4 separate regions of the Homo sapiens genome follow, and regions 1, 2 and 3 are each reported to be linked to region 4. The links are microRNA targets in miRTarBase. Many come from high-throughput screens and were not tested one by one. Region 4 holds a microRNA gene; each other region holds the end of a gene's coding sequence.

Region 1 (7,000 bases), not on the chromosome of region 4:
GCCCGGCCTAGAGAGTGCCAGATTTTTCAACAGCCATTGGGGCAATGCTCCGTGATTAGATGCTAGAACACAGTGGGCCGAGTGGGCCTGGGACCCGGTATTCCCCGCTCCCAAAGGAACTAGAAGGAAATGCCACATGAGGCGATTAATAATAACAATGCTAGTCATACTCCCAGTAACGATATCAATTCTAACAATGAGCTGGTGCGGTGGCTGGCACCTGTAATCCCAGCACTTTGAGAGACAGAGGCAGGAGGATCGCTTGAACCCAGGAGTCCCAGACCAGCCTGGGCAACATAGTGAAACCTCGTGTCTACAAAAAAAATTTAAAAATTAGCTGGGCATGGTGATACACGCCTGTAGTCCCAGCTACTAGGGAGGCTGGGGTGGGAGGATCGCTTGAGTCCACAGGTTGAGGTTGCAGTGAGCTGTGATCGCACCACTGCACTCCAGCCTGGGCAACCGAGCAAGACCCTATCAAATAAATAAATAAATAAATAAATAAATAAATAAATAAATAAAGCTGACATTTTCCCAGCCTGCACACTGGGGCCGAGCGTGGGTATTTAGCCATCTCTGGGTCTTCTCAGTTTCTTTCTTTTTTTTTTTTTTTTGAGATGGAGTCTCACTCTGTTGCCCAGGCTGGAGTGCAGCGGCGTGATCTCGGCTCATTGCAAGCTCCACCTCCCAGGTTCATGCCATTCTCCTGCTTCAGCCTCCCGAGTAGCTGGGACTACAGGTGCCCGCCACCACACCCGGCTAATTTTTTGTATTTTTAGTAGAGACGGGGTTTCACCAGGGTTAGCCAGGATGGTCTCGATCTCCTGACCTCGTGATCCGCCCGCCTCGGCCTCCCACAGTGCTGGGATTCCAGGCACCAGCCACTGCACCTGGCCTCTTCTCAGTTTCTTTGCAAGTGGTATCAGCACCCCCACTTGACAATTGAAGAAAAGAGGCTAAGGAGGCTGTTTTGCCAAGGCCTGGCGCCTCCTGCCCAAACTCAGACCTGGTCCATAAGGGAGGCCCCAGACCCCACATGTGACTAACAGGAGGGGGTTTCCCAGGACTGAGGGGGTTCCCCAATGGGGGGCTTTCCATGCTAAAATTGGGACAGTCCTGGGCAGGCCAGGACAGTTGGCCACGCCACTACGGCGGGTTTCTCAGAAGGAACAAAAGCTGGGGGCTTCCCCTGGCTCTGCAAGGGCTGCAGGGAGGGGCCTCCTCAGAGCCCCCTGGGACCTGGGAAAAGCCAAGAGTTGATGGATTAAAAGTAAAATACCTTTGTGTTTTCATGAGTGAGAAAGTTCAGGGAACAGCCAGTCTCCTCCTCAAAACAACCATGAGATGGATTTCCTGGGAAATCTTTTTTTTTTGAGACAGAGTTTTTCCTCTTGTCGCCCAGGCTGGAGTACAATGGCACGATCTTGGCTCACTGCAACCTCTGCCTCCTGGGTTCAAGGGATTCTCCTGCCTCAGCCTCCCGAGTAGCTGGGATTAGAGGCGCCTGCCACCACGCCCAGCTAATTTTTGTATTTTTTGTAGACACGGGGTTTCACCATCTTGGCCAGGCTGGTCTCGAACTCCTGACCTCAGGTGATCCACCCGCCTTGGCCTCCCAAAGTGCTGGGATTACAGGCATGAGGCTACCGCACTCAGCCTCCTGGGAATCTTTCCACAAAAATTCTACGCTCCTTTGGGCACGTGTGTGAACCTGTGTTCTCTAGAAAATTCTCAGGAGCAGCCCCAAATGGGACACTCGGTGCTGGCCTGAGAGGATACAGAGGAGTAACTTACACACATGAAGGCTGGCACCAGACGGGCTGAGTTCAAGCCCCAGCTCCATCACTGTGTGATCCTGGGCGGCCCCTTAACCCCACTGTGCCTCAGTTTCCTCCTCTGCAAGATGTGACTATTTAGTCCCAAACCCAGAGGCATGTCAGGGACATCAAATGAGTTAATACACTTCATTAGCCAGGTGTGGTGGTGCATGCCTGTACAGGAGGCTGAGGCAGGAGAATCGCTTGAACCTGGGAGATGGAGGTTGCAGTGAGCCGAGATCGTGCCACTGCATTTAAGCTTGGGCAACAGAGCAAGACTCGGTCTCAAAAAAAAAATAAATAAAAGGACTGGTGGTGGATAGCCAGATGCAGTGTGTGTCTCTTGGCTGTAATTTGAGCTACTCAGGAGGTTGAGGCAGGAGAATCACTTGAGCCCAGAGGTTAGAGGCTGCAGTGAGCTATGATTGTGCCACTGCACTCCAGCCTGGGTGACAGAGCCAGATCCCATCTCTTAAAAAAAAAAAAGGGGGGGGCCACACATGGTGGCTCATGTGTGTAATCCCAGCACTTCGGAAGGCCAAGGCGGGCAGTCCTCTTGAGGTCAGGAGTTTGAGACCAACCTGGCCAACATAGTGAAACCCTGTGTCTACAAAAAATACAAAAATTAGGCCGGGTGCGGTAGCTCACGCCTGTAATCCCAGTACTTTGGGAGGCTGAGGCAGGTGGATCATGAGGTCAGGAAATCAAACCCATCCTGGCTAACACAGCGAAACCCCGTCTCTACTAAAAATACATAAAAATTAGCCGGGCGTGGTGCCAGACGCCTGTAGTCCCAGCTACTCAGGAGGCTGAGGCAGGAGAATGGCGTGAGCTCGGGAGGCAGAGCTTGCAGTGAGCTGAGATCAGGCCACTGCACTCCAGCCTGGGCGACAGAGCAAGACTCCATCTCACAAAAAAAAAAAAAAAAAAAAAAAAAAAGGGCCGGGCACAGTGGCTCACACCTGTAATCCCAGCACTTTGGGAGGCCGAGGAGGGCAGATCACGAGATCAGGAGATCGAGACCACGGTGAAACCCCGTGTCTACTAAAAATACAAAAAATTAGCCGGGTGTGGTGGCGGGCGCCTGTAGTCCCAGCTACTCGGGAGGCTGAGGCAGGAGAATGGCGTGAACCCCGGAGGTGGAGCTTGCAGTGAGCCGAGATCATGCCACTGCACTCCAGCCTGGGCGACAGAGTGAGACTCTGTCTCAAAAAAAAAAAAAAAAAAAAGCCAGGTGTGGTGGAGTGCGCCTGTAATCCCAGCTACTTGGGAGGCTGAGGAGGGAGAATCCCTTGAAACTGGGAGGCAGAGGTTGCAGTGAGCCCGAGATCATGCGACTGCACTCCAGCCTGGGCGACAGAGTGAGACTCAGTCTCACAAAATACAAACAAAATCTTCAATAACAAGGAATGCAGTATTTTGAAAAACTGAAATTAACACCAAAATGTGTATGATGAACAAAAATTATTATTATTATTATTATTTTTGAGACGGAGTCTCACTCTGTTGTCCAGGCTGGAGTGCAGTGGCGCGATCTTGGCTCACTGCAACCTCTGCCTCCCGGGTTCAAGCGATTCTCCTGCCTCAGCTTCCCGAGTAGCTGGGATTACAGGCACGTGCCACCACGCCTGGCTAAGTTTTGTATTTTTTGTACAGACGGGGTTCCACCATGTTGGTCAGGCTGGTCGCGGACTCCTGACCTTGTGACCCGCCCTCCTCGGCCTCCCAAAGTGCTGGGATTACAGGCGTAAGCCACCGCGCCCCGCTCAAAAATTAAAATTTTTACTCGGCAGGGCACACTGGCCTGTAGTCCCAACACTTTGGGAAGCTGAGGCGAGCAGACTGCTTCAGCTCTGTTCAAATCCAGCCTGAACAACATGGAGAGAACCCTGTCTCTGAAAAATAAATAAATAAAAAGATCTTGGAAGGTGTCTGAGGCTCAATCAGGGTTCCAGGAGTCCCCCTGCAGCTCCTACCTGTCGTTCTCACTCATACAAAACACTAAGGAAAGTTACTAGATTTGCAGCTCACTCCTGCCCCCTGGTGGTGATCGGCTTGGGCACAACAGCATTCCAGGGGTTTTTATCCAATGCTTTTGCAAATGTTTCCTGAAGGTCCCCTTTCTGGCACTGTGTATGTTGCAAGAAAAAGTCCGTGCTCTGGTGGCACCCACAGTACATGGGAGGTGACAATACACAGGTCTGTGTGAAGAAAGGCATGTGAGGCAGGTTTGGTGGCTGAGCATGAGGGGAATTAAAGTAGGTCAAGGAGGGCCTCAGAGAAGTGGCATTGATCTGTGGTCTGAGTGACAAGCAGTCCCCTCAGAGATGATGTCCCCCAGGAGAGGTAGGCATAAGTCTACTGGATCGGAGGTATTTCATGTCTTAAACTGATGTGAACCTGGGTATTTATTGTACTTTGATCTTAGCTCACTGCAGCCTTGACCTCCCGGGCTCAAGCAATCCTCCTGCCTTAGCCTCCCAAGTATCTGTAACTACAGGTGCGCCCCACTGCGCCCAGCACTGTTTTTTTTTTTTGTTGTTGTTGTTGTTTTTGAGATAAGTCTTTGTCACCCAGGTTGGAGCGCAGTGGCGTGATCCTGGCTCACTGCAACCTCCACCTCTCAGGTTCAAGCAGTTCTCCTGCCTCAGCTTCCTGAGTAGCTGGGACTACAGGCACGTGCCACCATACCTGGCTAATTTTTGTGTTTTTAGTGCAGACTGGGTTTCACCATGTTAGCCAGGCTGGTCTTGAACTCCTGGGCTCAAGTGATCCTCCTGCCTCAGTCTCCCAAAGTGTTGGGATTACAGGTGTGAGCCACGCCTGGCCGTGCACTCTTCTTTAAGACTTTTCCTGTGGCAGAAATATTTTGTGACTTTTGAAGACGGCCAGCAAGTGCCAAGGTCCCCGTTCAGAGAATCTGAGTGCCAGGTGCCAGTTGTCTGAACCATTACCTCACTTGTCCCCCTCACTACGGCCTGAGGAGGGCACTAGCGCGACGACGTTAGCCCTAAGAGCAGGGACACTGAGGCTCAGCGCATCACCCAAAGCCACACGAAGAGAAATTTCAAGTGCTCAAGGGCCAGCATGGAGTTGGGGACAACAGGGCAGCGAGGCAACAGGCAGATGGTGCTGGGGGCCTGGTCAGTTGCAGGGAGGACTTCGGCTTCTGCTCCCAGGGAGGGGAGTCCTGCGAGGCTTTTGAGCAGAGGTGGGACATGCCCTGACCTGGGTGTTCACAGGTACCCTCTGGCTGCTGCCTGTTCAGGGGCTGACTTGTAGTGGGGAATGAGGAGGAGGCTGGGGCAGGAATTAGAGCCAGAGGCGATGGGGACCTGAAGGCCATAGGGACAAAAGGCAGTGGTCAGAATCAAGAATGTTTGGGGGGGTGGGGCCAAGTGCAGCGGCTCACACCTGTAATCCCAGCACTTTGGGAGGCCAAAGTGGGAGGATCACCTGAGGTCAGGAGTTCAAGACTAGTGTGGCCAATATGGTGAAACCCCATGTCTACTAAAAACACAAAAAATTAGCCGAGTGTGGTGGCGGGTGCCTATAATCCCAGCAGGAGGCTGAGGCAGGAGAATCACTTGAACCTGGGAGGTGGAGGTTGTAGTGATCCGAGATTCCACCACCGCACTCCAGCCTGGGTGATAGCTGGACTCTCAAAAAAAAAAAAAAAAAAAAATCTGTTTGGGGGCAGCGCTGGCCATAGGGTGGGGAGATATAGTCCATCCAGGATGCTGCTCCAAAAGGTTGTAGGAAGCTGGAAAGGTGTGGGGTGCGGGCAGGTGCGCCAGATCCACAAAACCCTAGGGAATGTGACTTGGTTTGCAGATCACTACTGCCCTCTGGTGGTGATCAGCTTGGGCCACCCTGCATTCTGGAGGTCCAAGTAGGGACAAGGGAGTGGGTGGGTGAGACTGAAGGTTGGGGGCTTTTGAGGCCTCTGGAAGAAGACTGTTCCAAGTTGTGGAACAGCATGTGTGAGGCGAGGACCCACGATGGCTGGTGGGCAAAGGACCAGAGAAGCACAGCTCAGCCCCCAATATCCCACCAAGTTTCCCTCCCACCTACAAGAGATGGGCTGCCTGAACGGCCCTCCCAGCAGCCCAGAGAGCATCTGAAATCTTTTATTGGAAGATCATTGCTGTTTGCCAAATAGAAGACACAGACAGCAGACGAACAGTGAAAACAGAGCCCAGTGACGAGAGCCGGCCCCTTGGCTGGGGACCCTCCCCAACTACCTGGTAGACCAGCCTGGTGACCTCTGCCCTTCCCCGGACCCCCGGGCCTTTGGCATAATGCTGATGGGGGGCTGCAGGCAGTGAAGCCCCTTGACTCAAAGCAGAGACTTGAATGGGCGCTGGAGAGTGGAGACAGTGGAGAGGCCAGGGAGGGCTGGGCGGGCCCCCCAGGCTGGGCCGAGCAGCGCAAGTAGAGGAAGTCAGGAGCGGGCGAGATGGCATCTATCTGTTTTCTGAAAAGGGGCACATAGGGGCCTGGAAGCAGGTGGCGGTGGTAGCTGGGGCAGGTCACACACTGACATCCTTCTCATCGCCCGTCTTGGGAACAGCTTCCAGTAATGGGTCCCCAGGACCTGCCTCCTCTCCCTCCTTGGCCTCGCTGGCCTTAGAGTTGGGGACCCAGAGGCCAGAGTCAATGCAGCGCTGCATGTGGTACTTTGCGTCCTGTGAGGAGAAGGCAGGCAGATGAGGTGGGGCCGCCAGCCGGTGGTCCCCGTTGTCCCCGTTGTCCCTTGCACATCCCCAAGCTGGCTTCCTGCCTATTGATATTTTACCTATTTGAGACGGAGTCTCACTCTGTCACCCAGGCTGGAGTGCAGTGGTGCAATCTCGGTTCACTGCAACCTCCACCTCCCAGGTTCAAGTGATTCTCCTGCCTCAGCCTCCCAAGTAGCTGGGGTTACCGACGCCTGTCACCATGCCTGGCTAATTTTACTTTTAGTAGAGATGGGGTTTTGCCATGTTGGCCAGGCTGGTCTTGAACTCCTGCCCTTAGGTGATCTGCCTGCCTTGGCCTCCCAAAGCACTGAGATTACAGGCGTGAGCCACCGTACCCAGCTGGAAATTTAAATTTTATTTAACTTTAATTTAAATTTAGATAGTGCAATCTAGAACAAAAGCCAGCAAATTTTTTTTTGGTAAAGGGACAGACTAAATATT
Region 2 (7,000 bases), not on the chromosome of region 4:
TTTTTTTTTTGTATTTTTAGTAGAGACAGGATTTCACCATGTTGGCCAGACTGGTCACAAACTCCTGACCTCAGGCAATACGCCCGCCTCGGCCTCCCAAAGTGCTGGGATTAGAGGCGTGAGCCACCGCCCCCAGCCCTTTTTATCTTTTTTTAAATGGCTGCTAGATCATAAAAAATTACATCCGCACCTTGGGTTGTATCTTTATTGGGCTGTGCTGGTTTCATGGCTCTTCCTGTATCTCCATCCCAGATTAACTCACACCCAGAACTCAGCCCCTTTCCCTGCTTTCTACAGAACACCTGCTCTCCTAGGCCTCCGTGAACTCAGCAGCGAAGCCCTGGCCTGCGGGCAGAGTTTGCCCCACAGCAGTGAATTCATCCAGAACTTGCACGTGTATGTGGCCTCCCTCTCTAAAATGTTTTAGTCCCCATCATGGTTCTCTGTCCCTTCTCATTCAGTACCCCCTTCCCAGTTCCTCCCACTGTCTTTTGCAGAGAAAATCCCACTTTCTCCAGCATTAGCATGTGCCAAACTCACCTCCCTCCTGGCCTTGCCTTGCACATCCTCTGCAAAGGGTTGAAATCTCTGCATGGGGAGGGCCTGCCACCCTCCTGGACAAGACCCCTCCTGCTTCCAGGATCTTGCCTCCCTGACTGTGGACATGCCCTCGGCCTGACTTGATACCCTCTGGAGCGCACACAGGGGAAGGGGACAGGGAGACTCAGCCTTCCCAGCACCAGGGCTCCCACTGGCTGGGGGACTTCAGGAGAGTGGTCTCCTCCCACACCGAGCCCCCACTAATTTTTCCCACACTCCTCTCTGCTCCCCCGCCCCATTCATCCATATCACACAGACAGACCCTCCTATGCCCTCTGTCATGCCCATGTACACATATGTCCCAAATGCCACAGTCCATGTGTTCTCACAGTTCACACAGGGTTGCTTTCACTGCCATACGTGTGGGGAAGCTGCCCTCATCATGCACAGATGCCCGCCCACCCCAACCCACACACATACATGTGTATAGGCCCCTGTGAACACAGATACATTTATTTGTGCACAGGTAGGTGGGCACAGACAGTGAGACACATTCTCATCACCAGGCACCCCCAGGAGACAGAGACCCCTTGGTGGCACTCACCTTGCTCCCTCAGACGCCATCGCAGGCCTCCTCGTGTGGACGCTGGGCTTGACGGCAGCCTCGCATTCTTTCCCACGCGGCCCACGCTCACGCCTGCTCCACACACAGTCTCCTCACCCCAGCCGGCAAGCTTTCTTGCAACCCCTCTCCTCCTCCACCCACCCAGCTCTGTCATTGGAGAAAGTCTGGGAAGCTGAGAGTTAAGGTGCTGGGGAAAAAAAAAAAAAAGGAGGGAAAATCTACTGTATTCCGGTGATAGAAAATCCTGCCAGGAGATGGGGCTTAGGTCCCAAAAGGGACCCAGGATTCTGAGATTGCAGCAGAAATTAAAAATCCAAATGAAGCCTCCTCCCTTTCTAGAATTTTCCATCTGGGCTTGACTGAAAAATCAGCCAAAAATCAGGAGCCTGGTCCTTCTCACAGAGAAGACAAAGGTGAGTCTGACAGAGCGGCAGGCTCTGTGACACCCTGCAGGAGATAGTGAGGGTCTCGGGGAGCGGGTCTGGGTGGCTGTATTTAGGGCGGCTGTGATGTCAGCGGAAAGGAGGGTTTGAGTTGGGAATGTGGCACAATGGCCCCTTTGTCCCCCTCCCCTCCTGTCCTGTACACACTGAAACCACACACCGGCCCCACACCACGTGATGCAGGCTCAGAGCTGCCCATGGGGCACTGCCACACAAGGCTGCCCCCGCTGCAGCCCTGACCCACAGTGCGTGTGTCCACATACATGCCCACGCGTGTGCACACACACCCACGTACCCACATGTAGATTTGTACAGAGGTGACAAGAGGCATATTCACTCCTTTGCCTACAGCTCTGCTGCCCCGTATGGTAACCCTTATCCCACATATAGTTAGTAAAACTAATTGCAATTCAGTAAAAGTGGAAACTGCATTCCTCAGTCACACTAACTGCATCTCACATGCTCAACAGCTGCATGTGGTTAGCGGCTACCGCACTGGGCGGTGCAGCTCTAGGACATGTCTGTTGCTGCAGAAAGCCCTGCCCTGCGCCCTCCGTTGCTGTCTGCTCCCCCATGGGCCTTCCACTTGCTCTTCCTCTCACACTCGCTCACTCCTGTGCACCAAGCACACACAGCGCCATGCTCTCACCTAATGGGTGGCCTCTCTAGCTCAGTCTCTCTCTCTTTAGTCTCCCCAGTACCTAAGCACAGACTCTGCCTAGCCCTGCATTGCAACACCTGGCCTCTAGTCTGGAGAGAATAACAGGATGGAAACATGACCACATCCACAATCCTAGGATGAAGGACCGAGGGGAGCTATGTGGATCTGGAGAGCTTTGGAAACTCAGAGGGGCTGAGCTCAGGCTGGGTTGGGCAAGGGAATGGGAAGAGAATGAGACATTTGAGCATGGCCCGGACAGTAGGGTGTTGAGCATGCAGAGAGAAAGGACATCTAGAAGGCCTGGAAGTGGGGAAATGCAGTGCATTTGTGAGAACTGTTGGCCACCCTTTTTGGTTGGTGTGACAGATGTGGGCAGGGGAGGGGACAGTGAGCCTGGGCAGGTGGGTAGTGGCCAGGTAGAGCCTTGGATGCCAGGCTCAGGATGTCCCTGGGTCCCCCACGAGGGCAGATGGGGATGTGGCCTGGACAGCCAGGGTCCTAAAGTCCCAGAGGTCCAAGTGGACAGGGTTTCCTGGGCAGCATGGCAGGCATCACCAAGCAATCAACACATTGATCAAGAGATGGAGCCTGGTGCTGTGGCTCATGTCCGCAATCCCAGCACTTTGAGAGGCTGAGGCAGGTGGATCACTTGAGGCCAGGAGTTCGAGACCAGGCTGGCTAACATGGTAAAACCCTGACTCTACTAAAAATATAAAAATTAGCTGGGCGTGGTAGTGCATGGCTGTCATCCCAGTTACTTGGGAGGCTGAGGCATGAGAATTGCTTGAACCTGGGAGGCGGAGGTTGCAGTGAGCTGAGACTGCGCCACCGCACTCCAGCCTGGGTGACAGAGTGAGACTCTGTCTCAAAAAAAAGAGAGAAAGAGAGATGGATAGGCATCACACAACTTTGGGTAATTTGCATATGAATAAGCCTTCATTTATATGCCATCATTCTTATCCTCTCTACACTGATTCCCTTTCTACACTGTCCTAAGTGTGGTAGAAGTGCTAATGATGAATTATTGAAGGCCATAATGAACGGCCATGAATACTTAATGACATCACGATATTAGTATTGCTGATGGATGGTATCTACAGACTTGTCCATCTCTCTGGAGACCTTAGGGAGGAGTGCGGGCTTTTTGTTCTTTTTGGGTTTAGACCTGAGATGAGGTGAGAGAGGTGACCAGCTGTCGTCTCGCTGTCTCCCTGGCTCCGGGTGCCTGGTTCTCTCTGGACTTCTGACGCCCTGGATTCTCTGTCCCCCGCTGACCACACTCGCTGTCCCCCTTACCTGAGATGGGGGAGCCGAACAGTCACCTTCCCTCCGGGCCTCGCCTTCTCAGGGCCTCTGGGAAGGAGCAGGCAGAAGGTGAAGGGAAAGAGAAGGGACGGAGAAGAGGGGGGAAGAGGAAGCAAGAATTTAAGAAAAAAAAGAAAGAAAGAAAGAAAAAGCTTAAAAAGGAGTAGGCGGGAGGCGGGGGCACGATGGTTCCCCAGACCACCCCAGCCCAGGGGGGTTGTGTTCTGGGGATTCAGGAGGTCGAGGCACCCAGTCCGTGGTGAGCAGGGCCAGGTCTCCTTCCTTCCCAAGAGCACGGTGCGAGTGCCTTCCCCACAGCTCTCCCAGGTGTCTGTCTCCCTCACTCCCCCAGGGCCAGGACAGCGAGCAGGGAGCACGCCTTCCTCCTGGTCCCTCCCAGACCCTCGCCAGGCTCAGCAGACCCCTCTCCTGTTGCGTTGCTCCTTCGGCAGGAGGTCAGCGTGGGTGAGAAGGGAGCAGAGGCCAGATGACCCTTCATGTCAGTTCAAGGAGAGGCCCCCAGGTCCTCCTCACGGGTTCCACTCCCCTCACCCTCCCAGTATCCATGAGCATCCCACCGCCACCAAGTGCAGGGCATCCAGGGGGTGGAGAGTGGATGGGCTTGAAGGGGAGTGGGTATGAGGTTTGGACAACCCCAGATGTGAAGAGTGTGTGTGTGTGTTGTGCACGTGGATTGCCTGTATGGTATTGCAGGGGAGAAGAGGATTTGGAAAAGGTGCAAGGAAATTGCAAGAATAGAAAATGAAAGAGGAAGTAGAAAGGTTTGCGGTATAAGAAGGGTGAGAGAAAGGGGAGTGGGGTTATGGAGGGATCTAGAAGAGAATAGTGGGGAGGGAAAGGGCAGGAATGGAAGGCAAGCCCATCACCCCAAAGCCCCTTCCCCATGTCTACCCCTCCCCCAACTCCAAAGAAGGAAATTAGGAGGCCACTGCGGATTATGTTTGGGTCATTTCCACATGCTTTATTCCAGCAATCAAAATAATTAAAAACATCTCAAATTATTATACACATACAAAATAGGTACAGAGTCTTTTGCTTCCTCCCACCCCTAGGGGGAAAAACTGCTTTGTGCTTTGGGAAGTTGTCTCTGAAACCCGGGGACAGAGGACGCAGGACAGACTAGGAGGGAGCCGGGAGGATGGGCTGCAGCTGTGGAGGAGGGTTTCAGAGGAGAGAGGTCGGAGAGCAGAGGCCTGAGAAGCCAGAGGCAGGTGGAGAGAGGGTGGAAAGTGAGCAGCGGGCTGGGCTGGAGCCGCACACGCTCTCCTCCCATGTTAAATAGCACCTTTAGAAAAATTCACAAGTCCCCATCCACAAAAAAAAAAAAAAAAAAAGAAAAATATCAAGGAATAAAAATAGACTTTGAACAAAAAGGAACATTTGCTGGCCTGGGGGGGCATCTCAATTTCTATAGCACCAGTGATTCCCTCCCCACCCCACCCATCACATAGATGTAGCACCTTTGGTATAAAATGGGGAGCCGCTTCCACCCTGCCCCCATCCCCGCCCCCAGGCAGTTGCCCCGGTGACACATCAAGACAAGAACGAGGTAGTCTTTCAGCAACACAGTTACACAAGGAACAGAACAGTCTCTCCCGCCCAGCCCTGCGGCACAAGGGATTGACACGCGTTCCCCAAATCCGATGTTTCTGCTTTGTCGTGGCCCTTCCTGACTCTCCTCCGAACCCAGTGAGGGGCTGGTGGCTCCCCCGGCATGACCCCCTCAAAAACGAAGGGGAGATGTTGCAAGAGCCATGGGAGCGCCAGATGGCAAGGCTTCTTTGGCAGTCTGAGAACCCCAGGTCCCCCAGGGCCTGGGGGTGCTGGGCGGGCAGGAGCGGGCTGAGGGTGGGGGCCACTTGGGTGTTTGAGCATTGCCTTTGATTGCTGGGCAGACAATACATTGTTTCCTGTGTCTTCTGGGGAGACAGATTTGGGAAGGAGTGGAGGGGAGGCCCCAAGGGGGGTGTGGAGAAAGGAGCAGAAAGGGCAGCATTGGGGTTTCATAAGCCCAACGGGCAGAAAGGGACTTACCCCCGCATGGGTCTTCAAGCAAGTGGACCAAGCTTCCTTTTTTAAAAAGTTATTTATTTATTCTTTTTTTTTTTTTTTTTTTGGTAAGGTTGAATGCACTTTTGGTTTTTGGTCATGTTCGGTTGGTCAAAGATAAAAACTAAGTTTGAGAGATGAATGCAAAGGAAAAAAATATTTTCCAAAGTCCATGTGAAATTGTCTCCCATTTTTTGGCTTTTGAGGGGGTTCAGTTTGGGTTGCTTGTCTGTTTCCGGGTTGGGGGGAAAGTTGGTTGGGTGGGAGGGAGCCAGGTTGGGATGGAGGGAGTTTACAGGAAGCAGACAGGGCCAACGTCGAAGCCGAATTCCTGGTCTGGGGCACCAACGTCCAAGGGGGCCACATCGATGATGGGCAGGCGGGAGGTCTTGGTGGTTTTGTATTCAATCACTGTCTTGCCCCAGGCTCCGGTGTGACTCTGGGGTGGGGCGGAGACAACGGGAGGGGGCATTACCACGTGGGAGTGATGGAGAGAGGGCACTATGGCCTGGCCAAAAAGCCCAAGGCCGGAGAGGTGGGGCCCTGCCTGGGGATTCTGGGCACTCACCGTGCAGCCATCGACAGTGACGCTGTAGGTGAAGCGGCTGTTGCCCTCGGCGCGGATCTCGATCTCGTTGGAGCCCTGGAGGAGCAGGGCCTTCTTGAGGTTGCCAGTCTGCTGGTCCATGTAGGCCACGCTGTTCTTGCAGTGGTAGGTGATGTTCTGGGAGGCCTCGGTGGACATCAGGCGCAGGAAGGTCAGCTGGATGGCCACATCGGCAGGGTCGGAGCCCTGGCCGCCATACTCGAACTGCAGGGGAGGGGAGAGAGGGAAGAGTGAGCCGCTATGCGGGAACCTCTAGTCCTGCCTGGCCTCCCTGTCCAGGGTCCTCAGAGAGCTGCCCAATGCACCGTTATATCGAGAGGAGGCACCACCTGCCCATCGGCAGCCTGTGTCTGAACCACTATCAGGGACCTGAGACCCCTGCCTCCCAGCCCAGCTCTGTCCATCACCCTTAGCAGAGACCTACTCCAGGACTTCATGTCCCTTCTGAGCACTGGGCTAGCCCATCTCCTAACACTGGCTCTGAGGTCCAGCTCACGCACCTGGAATCCATCGGTCATGCTCTCGCCGAACCAGACATGCCTCTTGTCCTTGGGGTTCTTGCTGATGTACCAGTTCTTCTGGGCCACACTGGGCTGAGTGGGGTACACGCAGGTCTCACCAGTCTCCATGTTGCAGAAGACTTTGATGGCATCCAGGTTGCAGCCTTGGTTGGGGTCAATCCAGTACTCTCCTGTGGTAGGGCAGGGCAAGATGGAGTCAGGGAAAGGGAGCAGCCAGCACCATATGGT
Region 3 (7,000 bases), not on the chromosome of region 4:
GAGTGGGTGAGTTACTTTGTGAACGAGTGGGCGAGTTAGTGTGTGAATGGGTTAGTGTGTGAATGAGTGGGTGTGTGAAGGAGTGGGTGAGTTACTATGTGAATGAATGGGTGAGTTAGCGTGTGAATGGGTGGGTTAGTTTGTGAATGAATGGGTGAGTTAGTGTGTGAGTTGGTTAGTGTGTGAATGAGTCGGTGGGTTAGTGTGTGAATGAGTTCGTGTGTGAATGGGTGAGTTAGTGTGAATGAATGGGCGAGTTAGTGTGTGAATGAGTGGGTTAGTGTGTGAATGAGCGGGTATGTGAACGAGTGGGTTAGTGTGTAAATGAGTGGGTGTGTGAATGAGTGGGTGTTTGTGTGAATGAATGGGAGAGTTAGTGTGTGAATGGGTGAGTTAGTGTGTGAATGAGCGGGTGTGTGAACAAGTGGGTTAGTGTGTAAATGAGTGGGTGTGTGAATGAGTGGGTTAGTGTGTGAATGAGTGGGTTAGTGTGTGAATGAGTGGGTTAGTGTGTGAATGAGTGGGTTAGTGTGCAAATGAATGGGTGAGTTTGTGAATGGGTTAGTGTATGAATGAGTCGGTTTAGTGTGTGAATGAGTGTGTGAATGAGTAGGTAAGTTAGTGCGTGAACGAGTGGGTGAGTTAGTGTGTGAATGAGTCGGTGAGTTAGTGTGTGAATGAATGGGTTAGTGTGTGAATGAGTGGGTGGGTTAGTGTGTGAATGGATGAGTTAGTGTGTGAATGAGTGGGTTAGTGTGTGAATGAGTCGGTGGGTTAGTGTGTGAATGAGTGGGTGGGTTAGTGTATGAATGTGTGAATGGGTGAGTGTGTGAATGGGCAAGTTAGTGTGTGAATGGGTTAGTGTGTGAATGGTCGAACGAGTGTGTGTGTGAATGGTTGTGTGAACGAGTGGGTTAGTGTGTGAATGGGTGAGTTCGTGTGTGAATGTGGGTGTGTGTCGGGTTAGTGTGTGAATGTGTGAATGAGTGGGTGGGTCAATGTGTGAATGAGTTAGTGTGAATAAGTGGGTTAGTGTGTGAACGAGTAGGCGAGTTAGTGTGTGAATGGGTTAGTGTGTGAATGGGTCAGTGTGTGAGTGGATGTGTGAACGAGTGGGTGAGTTTGTGAATAGGTGTGTGAATGAGTGGGTTAGTGTGTGAATGGAGTTTGTGGGTGTGTGAACGAGTGGGTTAGTGTGTGTTAGTGTGTGAATGGGTGAGTTGGTGTGTGAATGAGTGGGTTAGTGTGTGAATGAGTGGGTGGGTTATTGTGTGAATGAGTGAGTGGGTTAGTGTGTGAGGGAGTTAGTGTGTGAGTGGGTGTGTGAACGAGTGGGTTAGTATGTGAATGAGTGGGTTAGTGTGTGACTGGGTGAGTTGGTGTGTGAATGGGTTAGTGCATGAATGGGTGGGTTATTGTGTGGATGAGTGTGTGAATGGGTGTGTGAACGAGTGGGTTAGTGTGTGAATGGGTTAGTGTGAGTGTGTTAGTGTGTGAATGAGGGTGTGTGAATGAGGGGGTGTGTGAACGAATGGGCGAGTTTGTGAATGGGTGTGTGAATGAGTGGATGAGTTGTGTGAATGGGTGTGTGAACGAGTGGGTGAGTGTGTGAATGAGTGGGTTAGTGTGTGAATGAGGGATTTAGTGTGAGTGGGTGTGTGAACGAGTGGGTTTGTGAATGAGCGGGTGTGTGTGAATGAGTGGGTGAGTTGGTGTGTGAATGAGTGGGTTAGTGCGTGAATGAGTGGGTGGGTTAGTGTGTGAATGAGTGGGTGTGTGAACGAGTGGGCGAGTTTGTGAATGGGTGTGTGAACGAGTGGGTTAGTGTGTGAATGGGTTAGTGAATGGGCTAGTGTGTGTCAGTGGGTTAATGTGTGAATGAGTTGGTGAATGTGTGAACGAGTGGGCGTTAGTGTGTGAATGAGGGTGTGTGAACGAGTGGGTGGGTTAGTGAATGAGTGTGCGAATGAGTGGGTAAGTGTGTGAATGAGTGGGTGAGTTAGTGTATGAGTGGGCAAGTTAGTGTGTGAATGGGTGGGTGAGTTGAGTGGGTGTGTGAACAAGTGGGTTAGTGTGTGAATGAGTGGGTTAGTGTGTGAGTGGATTAGTGTGTGAATGAGTGGGTGGGTTTGTGAATGAGTGGGTTAGTGTGTGAACGAGTGGGCAAGTTAGTGTGTGAATGAGTGGGCGAGTTAGCGTGTGAATGGGCGAGTTAAGTGTGTGAATGAGTGGGTGACTGCTCTAGCCGAGTTCTTGCTCCTTGGGAAGCACCGGCCAAGGCTAGGAAGCAGCCTGGTTTTTGGGGTCCCAGGGAAGGGGACACCTAGGGGTTTCTGGCTGGGCCCTGGTCCCAGATGTGTAGGCATCAGTGGGTCTCCAAACCTCCCTGCTGGAATTTGTGAGCATCTGGCCCTCAGGACAGTAGGCCCACCCCAGCCGGCCGCTCCCGTGCTCTGAGTCCCGGGTGTGGATGCCTGGGTGCAGCCAGCACTCACCCCTCGGGGGTCCGAGGACGACGCTGCTCTCACGGTCACTCTCCTGTGACCCGAGAGCCAGAGCAGGACCCGCCACCCTCCTGTGCCGTGTCCCTTCCTGTCCACCATGTGTCAGGCCCACTGGACACGGTGCCCGGCAGCTTCACACACACAATTCGCCCTTCGTCGTGCACGAGGCAGTGTTCCAGCATGTTCAGTCACATAAGCTTCACCACAGCCATTTCGGAACATTTTCACCCAAAAAGAAATCCATACCCTGTAAGCAGCCTCCCCCCATCCCCCATCTCCCCCCATTCCCCTTGACCCACCCCCAGCACCCGCCAGTGCACCCCCTGCCTCTGTGCCTGGCCCACTCTGGCATTTCGTGTTAAGTGCAGTCCCACAGCGTGAGACCCTTTGTGTCTAGCTTCCTCCCGAGCGTGAGGCTTCCAAGCTTGGCTCCTGGTTCTAGCTGAGAGGCCTGCAGCAGGCACGGCCCACATGGACTCAGCATGTTCTCGGGCTGCATCCATTTTGGCTGCTGTGAACTTGCGTGCACCCGTTCCTGAGGCTGTGCCACACACCAGGAGTGGACCTGCCGGGGAAGGGGCGGCTCTGTCTCTCACACTTTCAGGAACCACAGGCCCTTCCCGTGCAGCTACAACCCTGCAAGAGGGGTCCGATTCCGCACGTCCTCCCCGCGATTCTCTGGTTTTGGCTGTGACCATCACAGGTGTGAGTTGGCATCTCACGAGTTAGAACACGCTGTCCCCACTCATGGCGGACTCTCTGGTGCCTCCATCCTTATATAAATTAAATTATAAATCGAATGGCCGGGCATGGTGGCTCATACCTGTAATCCCAGCACTTTAGGAGGCTGAGGCAGGCAGATCACTTGAGGTCAGTTCGAGACCAGCCTGGCCAACATGGTGAAACCCCATCTCTACTAAAATACAAAAATTAGCTGGGCGTGGTGGTACACGCCTGTGATCCCAGCTATTCGGGAGGCTGAGGCAGGAAAATAGCTTGAACCTGGGAGGCGGAGGTTGCAGTGAGCTGAGGTGACGCCACTGCATTCCAGCCTAGGCAACAGAGACTGTCTCAGAAATACAGAGATTGGGTCACTTCAACACACAGCACTAGGAAGTTTGGGGTAAGGTCATTTCCAAGCCGATGACATGATTTGGAAGCCCTCGTCCAATTCATATGGTCACTCTTCAGCCACCTGAGTTGGCTGTGGCTGGTCAGCCCTGACGCTCCTGCTAGAAAAGGGGCGGCCAGTACATTTTCTCCAGCTGTCTTTCATGCTGAATGAGACTCAAGAGATTCTTCAACGTACTCAGATTTCATAGGATTTTATTTTTCTACTAACACAGACAGACAGGGAAACCTACAAAAGGAAACGGAGTCAATTGTAAATGGCTGTAGTTACTGGTTACACGGAGTTGACAACACAAAGGATGCCTGGTGCTTGCGTGCAGAGGCTGCAGCCCAGGGCGGGGGCAGAGCTGAGCCCTCAGGAGGTGGTTTCGTGTGCAGAACTGAGCGGCCCTCAGAAGCAGGGCTGTTTTCCAGCCACCAACCAACGTTCAGAGCCAGCACCATGTGGCCGCTGTGCCTCTAGCCTGCTCTCCTCCAGGTGCAGGGGACACAGGACCTGCCGGCCCCATCCAGACATGGAGGAGCGTTTTGCTGCTTAACTCATGCTTAGCCAAGGCAGGCAGAGGCTGTGGGAACTGCTGAGCCCCGCTGTGATGTCTGGGACACGCTCTGGGCAGCAGCCGTCACTCTACAGCAATGCCAGCCCTAGTCTGGCTCCTCAGAAACATCTGGGGGCACAAGTGCAGCCTCTGCCCCGATTTGAACTTTGTTGATGGGGCTGATTCCCTTGGGAGACCATGCAAGCCAGACGTAGCCCAAGGCCTGGCCATCTGGGGCCTCTAGTATATAGAAGCAACCTCTTTATGGACAACCTTGTTACCACGTAACTCCCTGGGGTGTTTAAATAAATAAATATGCCACATAGAAAGGGAGGCCCAAGTCGGTGCCACTGCCCGCAGCCTGCAAATGTGACCACAACCTACAAAGCAGAAACTCACAGCCAGCCGAAGTGCAAAGTGTTGGGCCCTTGAAAGCTATCTCTTCAGTGCCACCGCCGCCTCCATGCAAGGCACAGGCCATGGCAGGGGACGCCCGGGACTCAGCCAGACAGACCTGACACCAGGCGCCACTGCTGCCTGAGGACCTCCCACGTCGGGTCCGTGTCCTCCTTCCCTGGAGCACCGGGGTGGGGATGGCACGTGTGAGCCAGCTCAGAGGCTGAACTGTGTGCCGTGCTCCTGGGGTGGGGTGGGGTGGGGAGGGCAGTCCTGGCTGTCGTGGGCTGTCGGGGGAACTCACTGTTCACTCTGCGCGCGTGTGCCCCTGGGTTTCAGTGCATTTGCCTGCGTGAGGCACTGATCGCACCTGTGGCTGTGGGCTGGGCCCTGTCAGTGCTTATGAAAAGAAGTGGCTGGTTTTCTAAAGGTGGATGGAGACTCGGACAGCTGCAAACACAGCCCGGCATGGCAGAGCCACAGCTGGGGGCCCCTTCCCGGAGCGTAGGCCCTGATGAACTGAACGTGTTCACCACACACCCGACAGATGATCCACCACGTTCTGGAAAAGCCGAGTTCCCTTTCCAGATGGCCCTGGCCCACGCCTCAGCTCATGAAATGTGGACCTGCCGAGCCCAGAGGCTCCCACACGAGGGTGACACGGGCATGGACAGAGTCCTCCAGCTTCAGTGCCTTGAGGTACAGAAACACAAAGACAGTCAAGGAACAGAGTGACTCGGAGGTGACCGGGGCCCTGAGCGGAGCCATGGCCAGGGCTGACGTTTCACCTTCATCATCAGGGACAGCTTCAGCTCCGGGTGCTCTTCCAAGAATGTTCTGGATGGGGTAGAAATGCAACCTAACCACTGGGTAAATCCAGCCAAGGAAAAGAACTTCCAGAAACCAAGGCAAGGGCTCACTGGCTTCTTGTGACCTGCGAGAAGATCTGGCCACGTCCAGGTCACTCCGGTAGCAGCGTCTGCCCTCAGATGCAAGGAAATCGTCCAGCCACGCCCTGATTTGCTGAGCCTGTTAAGGCTGAACAGGAGAGCCCTAGGTGACGGGCCTAGAAACTTCCGTAGGAAGCCCCATGGGCAGCTTGGGCGGCATCACTGGGGGACAGGTGTGTCTGCCGTCTGTTTCCCTGGGCCAAGCCCAGGCCCAGGCTGCCCACGCCGTCCTCCGTGCCTGTCCCAGAGTGCCGTGATGCTGTTGGGCATTAGGAGTAGATGGTGATCACCTCCCGGCCGCCACCCCTGACCAGGAGGACTCTGTTCAGCCCCTCGGTCAGGACTTCAAGAAACTCCATGTCTGTGGTCAACAGAGTTAAGGCCACAGCTGATCTTACCTGAGCGTGTGTAGCTGAAATCGTGATAGGAGTGAGGTTTATCCTCTCCTGGTTAGCTAAGATTTGGTTTGAGAAACCCAGAGCCAAGGTGAAAAGAGAGGTGGGGATTAGAGAGACCCCCCAGGCGGGGAGGAGCAGGGCAGGGGAGAGAGGGGCCAGTGCTCGGGAAAGAGAGGGAGCACCGTGGCCACAGGGAGGACGAGCAGAGACAGCGACACAGCCCACGGTGCTGACCCCACCCGACAGGGAACCCCAGCCACGGGACTGGGTCCTCACCAGCCTACAGGGGACCTGGGCCACGGATTCCGATCAGGACGCATGGAGGACATGCCCTCACTGGCCCCAGTTCTTGGTGCCAACCTGGCAGGGATGTGCCAGGCGTCACCCTGTCTGTGCCAATACGCCCAGATGCACTGCGGAGTTCTCCTTCCAAAGCACAAATTCCCAAAGCTGCGACCAATTGTGGCCTTAAAGCCGAGAGCTGGGCTCCTCACCTCCCACCGTTGTCGGCGCAGGGTGGGGCTGAGCCCCAGCGGAGGTCCCAGAATGCACAGCTGCTGTGGGGATGCATGACAGGGAGCCTCCCAGCCCCAGGGCAGCCCTGAGCACCTGGGGACAGTGGGGCTGGTACTGTAGGCGGGCCCTCCCTCCCCCACACCAATGCCAGGGCTGGCCCCAACTCTGGCCCGGTCACCACTGGGCTCAGAGCCCCACTGCATCCCGGTCGTAGCTCCCAGAGCCTGGGGCTGAAGGAGAGGCGGGAAGCCAGCCTCACTCCCAGCACCCACAAACCCAGGTCTTAGCGAGAAGCCACCAGGGGGTGCCCGCACGCTCAGCAGGCACACTGCAAGAAAGGATACAGTTCTCGTCTCCCTGCCGGTTTTTGGGAGGACCTGGCATGTTGAGCAGGACCAGCTGCGCATCCTGGGACTTGTTGAGGACGACGCCATTGAGCTTCACAGCCGTGTGCATCCGCCTGACGTTGGACTGGTCCCTGCAGGGGAGGTGGGCACGGTCAGCGGGCGGCGGGTGCACCCCACGCTCCGGACACGAGGCTGAGCTGAGCCCTGATGAGCTGCATT
Region 4 (7,000 bases):
CTCCCCTCCCGGACCCGGGGGTGGCGGAAACCCAGACCCCCAGCTCCCAATCCCTCTGACTCCTGCGCCCCTCAGCGACCCGGCGTCCGGTCCCTCAGCCCCTTACCCAGACTTCCCTCCCTCCGGCTCATGCTGGCCCCTGGCTGATCCCGGCTCCCTTCACGCCCCCCTTTCGAGGGGGGAGAAAGGGGAAAGGGCTGGGGGCGTGGCCCGGGCGCAGCCAATCAGAGCCCAGACCCCAAACATTTCATCCTACCCCCCCTTTTGAGACAGGATTCCTTGGCCCTGAGCTCAGCTCCTCGTCCGTGGGGCCTAGTGGGGGAAGGGGCCCGAGGGGGAAGGCAAGTTGTCTGCCGGGTGGACAGGACCTCGGGGCTGGGGGTGTCAGGGCCTGGGAGGCAGCCCAATGTTCTGCCGCGGGCTCAGGCTTGGACCTGAGGCAGCGGCTGCTTTGGGTGTAAAGCTGAGGAGACAGGAGAGGGAACTGCCGGACTGGCAGGACAGGAATGCGCAGGCCCTCTCTCTAGTCTGGGGCGCGGCTTGCGAGGGAGGCTACGATGGGGGCCGTCAGGCTTGGGGCATGTTTGTCCAGACATACATCTCCTGGCCTATCTTAGATGGCTTCCAATCTCATTGTCACACCCACCAGGAGGGAGACAGATACACTGCTCTCCTCTTCTTAGCAGGCCTAGTAACAATCACACCCCGCCCCCCACCCCCAGGAGAACAAGCTACAGAGACCTGGACAGGAAGTCACACCCATACGTCAACCCCATTAACCTGGTGTAGACGGAAAGGAAGGCACATAGGGATGATCCATACTTGGTTTCTGGCCCCCGCGAGGGGCTCGCGGTCTGTCGAGGAAGCCCATAGACAACAGAAGCTAATGGGGTTTGTGAATGAAGACGAGGAGGCCCGTGTGTGTGTGCGCTTGCGTGTGTCTGCGTGTGTGCGTGCATGCGGACGTGTGTGCGTGTGAGCATGCGTGTGTGCGAGTGGATTTGTGTGCGTGTGAGTGTGCAGGTGTGCGCGTGTGTGCATGTGCGCGTGCATGTGTGTGCGTGTGTTCGTGTGAGTGGGTGTGTGTATTGCCGTGAGCAATTGCTGGAATAAAAGAAGAAAGAGTTTAACTGGAGAGGGCACAGCAGATAGAATTGAGCCAGACAATTGGTAGGGCCCACAATCACATGTGTATTAACTGTAAATATTTATTGGGCATTTACCATGTGCTGGGCACTGTTCTAAGAGCCATATGCACATTAACTAACTCCTGTGTTATAGATGCGGAATAGAGAGAAGTGACTTGTCCAGGGTAACACAGTTAGGTGTGGCACAACTGGGATTTTACCTAAGCAGCTTGGCTCAAAAAAATGCTGTCTTAACCATGCTCCTAACCCCTTATACCCTTAACCTCTGGACATGGTCACGCCCAAATTCACAGACACAACAGCCACACCTTGAAACACACACACACACACAACAGCAGCACAAATTTTGACATGGTCTTATCTGCTGACAAGCCAGCCTCAAATAAAGTCAACAAAGACACACTCATTTTATTTAAGTAATGTACATTTTATTTAAGTCATGTGATGGATTTTCACAGAATACATATGCCCAGGGAACCAGCACCAGATTACACAACAGAACTGGATCAGCTCCCAGAAGCTCTCCCCTCGTCCCCTCCCAACCCTAAGGGCGATCACTATCTTGACTTTGGTGCACTATAAATTAGTTTTGTCTGGTTCTGAACGTAATACACCTGGAACCATCTAGTATGTACTGTTGCATTTGGCTTCTGTCACTCAAGATTTCATCATGCGACTTGTCTATGTTGCTGTGTGTAGCCGGGCATGTCAATCCCGTTGCTGTGTCTATGTGCATGGTAGTGAGTAGGGCATCATTCATTTTCCATTCTGTTGATGGGTTATTTCCAGTTTGGGGCTGTTATGAAAGGGCTCTGAACATTCCCATGCACCCTCTTGATGCTCACACCTACACATTTCTGCTGGGTGTTGACAGCCTAGGAGTGGAACTGCTGGATCACAGAGGTGGCATATGTTCGGCTTCATTAGAAAACTGCCAGTTTTCCAAAATGTCTCTACCAATTTACACTCCCCCAGAAATACAAGAGAGGTCCAGTCGCTCTACTTTCTCGCCTCCACACGGTGCGGTCTTTTTCACTTTAGCCATTCTGGTGGTGGAGACCCACTCGTATTCGCAGCGCCTGGAGCGTAATTGGCACTCAGTTAACAAGACTGTTGAATGAATGGATGACTGAGTAAGTTGGGCGGTGTAGACCAACAGCCTGGCGAGGGCGGACACACGCACGCACTCCACACACAGCGTTTCGCGGACACCCACCGCGGCTCACGCAGCGCAGGACACAGACCCTGTCGCGCACCCCGCGCCCACGTGGTCTGAACACACGGCCTCGGCCCTGCCTCGCGCGTCCGGTCGCAACTCCCGCTCTCCGTCCCCAACTCGCGCGTCCGTCCCCAACTCCCGCTCTCGGCGGCGGGCAGGGGGCGCTGAGCGTCCAGGCGCTCCAAGGGGGCGGGCCCGGGTCGGGGCGGGGCCGGCCGGGCTTCCAGGCCTGGGCTCTGGCCGCCCGCGCCACCGGGCCGCTCCGGGGACAGGCCGGGGCGGGGCGCGGCGGCAGGAAACGGGGCGGGGACTTGCGGAGGCGTTGGGGACGAGAGAGGGCGCGGCCAACTCCAGGGGGGACGGCAGGCCGAGAGCGCGGCGCCCGGGCCTGGCGCGGAGCCTGAGCCCGCCGGACGGGAGGCGGCCCCGCCGCGGGCTCGGCCCCGGCCCCAGCCCCGCCAGCATGGCCGGCCGGACTGTACGGGCCGAGACCCGGAGCCGGGCCAAGGATGACATCAAGAAGGTGATGGCGACCATCGAGAAGGTCCGGAGATGGTGAGCGCTGCTCGGGGGCCAGGGACGGGACACAGCGGGACCACCAGCACCAAAGGCGTCTACGCTGCCCTCGCCAGCTCTGGGCCCCGGGTGTTCGGTGTATCTCCACCCACTAGCTTTGCCCTGGATCCACAGGGCTCTGTCCCCGTTCGCCTGGCTACTCCTGGGGGTCTACAAAGCGTGATCCCCAGCCGTGTCCTCCCAGAGCGGGAGCCCCCTCTTGTGCCCCGCCCCCTAAAGCTTTGACACCCCTCCTGCAGGTGCGCCCCAGGATCTGCAGGGCTCTGATCCCGGGCCAGGCCCATAGCCACGCCCCCCATGTGTGCCCCAGGGGTCCGCAGAGCCAGGGCCCCAAATCATATCCTCTCTCTAGAGGCACCCACCGCCTATGCCCTGGGGTTTGCAGGACTCTCTTCCTCCATGTAACTATGCCCCATTAGCAAAACTGTTGCTATCCTCCTGTGCCTCCTCAACCTCTGCAGGTACCCCCAGATGTGTCCAGCTCCTAGGGGGGTGGGTCTCCCCTCAGGCCTCTCTGACCCAGCCCCCCACCCTCCCACAGGGAGAAGCGATGGGTGACTGTGGGCGACACTTCCCTTCGTATCTTCAAGTGGGTGCCAGTGGTGGATCCCCAGGAGGAGGTGAGCAACCCCCATTCCCACAAGGCCCTGCATCTGTGCAACCTCAGGCAAGTTCCTCCCCACGCTGACCTCTACCTCCAGCTCCCCGAGACCTCAGATGCAGCAGGACAGACGGGAACCATCATTAGCAGCTCCTCCCCTTTTGCCCTCTTTTCTGCTCCACACCCCCTGAGTTTGAGCCCTTTTGCTTCTCAGTGCCTCAGTTTCCTTAGGTGTATGGTGGGGCTTTCCAAGAGCTCTGACCCTAATCCTCTAACCCCCAGGAGCGAAGGCGGGCAGGTGGCGGGGCAGAGAGATCCCGTGGCCGGGAACGTCGGGGCAGGGGCGCCAGTCCCCGAGGGGGTGGCCCTCTCATCCTGCTGGATCTTAATGGTAGGTAGGGATCCTGAAACGCGGGGGGCTGTGGGGACTGAAGGAGTGTACTAGGGATCTCAGGCCAACCATCTCGGCTCTTGCTCCCGCAGATGAGAACAGCAACCAGAGTTTCCATTCGGAAGGTTCCCTGCAAAAGGGCACAGAGCCCAGTCCTGGGGGCACCCCCCAGCCCAGCCGCCCTGTGTCACCTGCCGGACCCCCAGAAGGGGTCCCTGAGGAGGCTCAGCCCCCACGGCTGGGCCAAGAGAGAGGTAGGACCAGGTACCTCCCAGGAGCTCTCTCCTCTAAGTCCTGTCTTCTCCAGAGTCTAACCTACCAGCTCATCCCTATACCTGCTCCCCGTCTTGTGCACCCTCCTCAAGGCGCCTTCCGACTCCTGCAGAATCTCCCTGTAGCTACAGTCTCATTCCTCTGGTCTCTTAGAATCTATACAGACATATCACTGTCTGAGATTTTCATGTAAATTAATTTTTTACTAGTTTATCTTTCTCCTCACTCTCATGTCAGTTTCCTGAATGTTGGGCCCATATTGATCCTTTTTTTTTTTTTTTTTTTTTTTTTTTTTTGAGAAAGGGTCTCGCTCTGTCACCCAGGCTGGAGTAGTATAGTGGTGTGATCATAGCTCACTGCAGCCTTGAACTTCCTGGGCTCAAGCGATCCTCCCGCCTCAGCCTCCCAAGTAGCTGGGACCACAGGCATATGCCACCACACCTGGCTAATTTTTGTATTTTTTGTAGAGATAAGGTTTCACCATGTTGCCCAGGCTGGTCTCAAACTCACTTGCTCAAGCAGTCCTCCACCTTCAGCCTCCCAAAGTGCTGGGATTACGGGTGTGAGCCATCACACCCACACCCGGCCCTCCCCCCCCTTTTTTTTAGAGACAAGGTCTCTGTCACCCACGCTGGAGTACTCTGGTGCAATCATAGCTCACTGCAGCCTCAAACTCCTGGGCTCAAGGGATCCTCTGGCCCCAGCCTCCCAAATAGCTGGGACTCAGGTGTGTGCCACCATGCCCAGCCAATTCTTAAATTTTTTGTAGAGGTAGGGTCTCGCTATGTTGCCAAGGTTGGTTTTGAACTCGTGGCCTGAAATGATCCTCCTGTCTCAGCCTCCCAAGGTGCTGGGATTATAGGCGTGAGTCACTGTGCCTGGCCCTATGTGATCTTGTTCACTACTGTATCCTCAGAATAATATGGGACACATAGTAGGTGCTCAGTAAATATCTGTTGAGTGAATAAATAATAGTGATAGTCATAGGGGTGATTAACAATAATAGGAATAACAACAGCTAGTATTTATTGAGCTCTTACTGTGTGCTAGGTGCCCTGGTAAACACTTTACGTGGTTGGGTTTTTTTCTTTTCTCTTTTTCTTTTCTTTGAGAGAGTTTCGCTCTTGCCAAGGCTGGAGTGCGACGGCACAATCTTGGCTCACTGCAACCTTCACCTCCTGGGTTCAGGCAATTCTCCTGCCTCAGCCTCCTGGGTAGCTGGGAATATAGGCATGAACCACCATGCTCGGCTGGTTTTGTATTTTTAGTAGAGTTGGGGTTTCGCCATGTTGGCCAGGCTGGTCTCAAACGCCTGACCTCAGGTGATCTGCCCGCCTTGGCCTCCCAAAGTGCTGGGATTACGAGCCACCACGCCCAGCCTTTTTTTTTTTTTTTTTTGAGATGAAGTCTTGCTCTGTTGCCCAGGCTGGAGAGCAGTGGTACGATCTTGGCTCACTGCAAACTCTGCCTCCCAGGTTCAAGCGATTCTTCTGCCTCAGCCTCCCATGTAGCTGGGATTACAGGCATGCCACCATGCCCGGCTGATTTTTGTTTTTTTTGTTTATTTGTTTGTTTGTTTTTGAGACAGAGTTTCATTCTTGTTGCCCAGACTAGAGTGCAATGGCACAATCTCAGCTCACCGCAACCTCTGCCTCCCGGGTTCAAGCGATTCTCCCGCCTCAGCCTCTCGAGTAGCTGGGATTATAGGCATGCACCACCATGCCCCGCTAATTTTGTATTTTTAGTAGAGACGAGGTTTCTCCATGTTGGCCAGGCTGGTCTCGAACTCCCGACTTCAGGTGATCCGCCTGCCTCAGCCTCCCAAAGTGCTGGGATTACAGGCGTGAGCCACCGTGCCTGGCCTAATTTTTGTATTTTTAGTAAAGATGGAGTTTCACCATGTTGGCCTGGCTAGTCTCGTACCCCTGACCTCAGGTGATCCGCCCGCCTCGGCCTCCCAAAGTGCTAGGATTACAGGTGTGAGCCACCGTGCCCAGCCAACACTTTACGTGTTTTTTTCTCATTTAATTTTTACTACAACCTTATAAGGGTGATGATCTTGTTATGATCCCTATTTATAGATGAGGAAACTGAGACCCAGAGAAGTAACTCAGCCAGTGAGCCAGCATCTTGGGCCTGTGTCCTCATCAGCTCTGCTTTTTTTTTTTCCTTTGAGATGGAGTCTCACTCTGTCACCTAGGCTGGAGTGCAGTGGCACGATCTTGCTCACTGCAACCTCCGCCTCCCAAGTTCAAGCAATTCTCCTGCCTCAGCCTCCTGAGTAGCTGGGATTACAGGCTGCACAACACCACACCCGGCTAATTTTTGTATTTTTAGTAGAGACGGGGTTTCATCATGTTGGTCAGGATGGTCTTGAACTCCTGACCTCGTGATCCACCTGCCTCGGCCTCCCAAAGTGCTGGGATTACAGGCTTGAGCCACCGTGCCCAGCCAGCTCTGCTTTCTTCCATGCAGTCAAACCCGTCTGATTGGCACCTCTTCCTCCTAGGCTCCCTGTCCCTGGCCTTCCCATTTCTCACCCGTTTTTGGTTCCAGCTGGTCTCTTCTAGTCACCTCCACACAGCTGCCAGAACAACTTTTTCCTTCATTTTTTAAGCTTTGCTTTTTTTTTTTTTTTTTTGAGACAAGGTCTCACTCTGTCGCCCAGGCTGGAATGCAGAGGCGTGATCACGGCTCACTGCAGCCTTGGATTCCTGGGCTCAGTCAGCCTCCTGAGTAGCTGGGACTACAGGCATGCATCACCATGCTCAGCTAATTAGTGTTGTTATTCT

What was found. The annotated mature microRNA hsa-miR-762 reads GGGGCUGGGGCCGGGGCCGAGC and lies in region 4 at 2,803-2,824, opposite strand. An mRNA with a match to its seed (bases 2 to 7 or 8) in the 3' UTR can be bound and repressed. Matches are read on the target gene's strand: a 7mer-m8 pairs with bases 2 to 8, a 7mer-A1 pairs with bases 2 to 7 and ends in A, and an 8mer does both.
Region 1: the mRNA of CDC37 is a reported target of hsa-miR-762. Seed matches in the 3' UTR shown: 7mer-m8 at 6,213-6,219.
Region 2: miRTarBase lists COL1A1 as a target of hsa-miR-762. Seed matches in the 3' UTR shown: 7mer-m8 at 5,290-5,296, 8mer at 4,838-4,845, 7mer-m8 at 4,834-4,840 and 7mer-A1 at 4,735-4,741.
Region 3: the mRNA of SLC12A7 is a reported target of hsa-miR-762. Seed matches in the 3' UTR shown: 8mer at 4,950-4,957 and 7mer-A1 at 4,854-4,860.

What each region holds. Positions count from the first base shown.
Region 1 is chr19:10,385,202-10,392,201 of GRCh38, forward strand. CDC37 (cell division cycle 37, HSP90 cochaperone) reads right to left here. Exons shown (of 8, transcript NM_007065.4): 8 at 5,932-6,505. The coding sequence ends at 6,350. Among named protein-coding and RNA genes, the nearest start is that of TYK2, 8.1 kb to the left of the region's middle. RefSeq lists enhancers at 862-1,251, 1,332-1,391, 3,554-4,054, 3,634-3,693.
Region 2 is chr17:50,179,566-50,186,565 of GRCh38, forward strand. It overlaps COL1A1 (collagen type I alpha 1 chain), which reads right to left. Exons shown (of 51, transcript NM_000088.4): 49 at 6,752-6,942; 50 at 6,213-6,455; 51 at 4,536-6,083. The coding sequence ends at 5,937. Among named protein-coding and RNA genes, the nearest start is that of SGCA, 17 kb to the left of the region's middle. RefSeq lists enhancers at 1,603-1,897, 2,357-3,252, 4,828-5,818.
Region 3 is chr5:1,046,571-1,053,570 of GRCh38, forward strand. It overlaps SLC12A7 (solute carrier family 12 member 7), which reads right to left. Exons shown (of 24, transcript NM_006598.3): 23 at 6,779-6,912; 24 at 3,814-5,881. The coding sequence ends at 5,790. Among named protein-coding and RNA genes, the nearest start is that of MIR4635, 13 kb to the right of the region's middle.
Region 4 is chr16:30,889,775-30,896,774 of GRCh38, reverse strand. MIR762 (microRNA 762) reads right to left here and starts at 2,872; the gene lies at 2,790-2,872. It overlaps BCL7C (BAF chromatin remodeling complex subunit BCL7C), which reads left to right and starts at 2,698. Exons shown (of 6, transcript NM_004765.4): 1 at 2,698-2,922; 2 at 3,485-3,563; 3 at 3,827-3,935; 4 at 4,028-4,189. The coding sequence starts at 2,831. It overlaps CTF1 (cardiotrophin 1), which reads right to left and starts at 161. Exons shown (of 3, transcript NM_001330.5): 1 at 107-161. The coding sequence starts at 131. It overlaps MIR762HG (MIR762 host gene), which reads right to left. Exons shown (of 3, transcript NR_110942.1): 3 at 1,555-2,227. RefSeq lists enhancers at 488-991, 992-1,497, 3,241-3,570, 3,109-3,741 and a silencer at 2,381-2,860.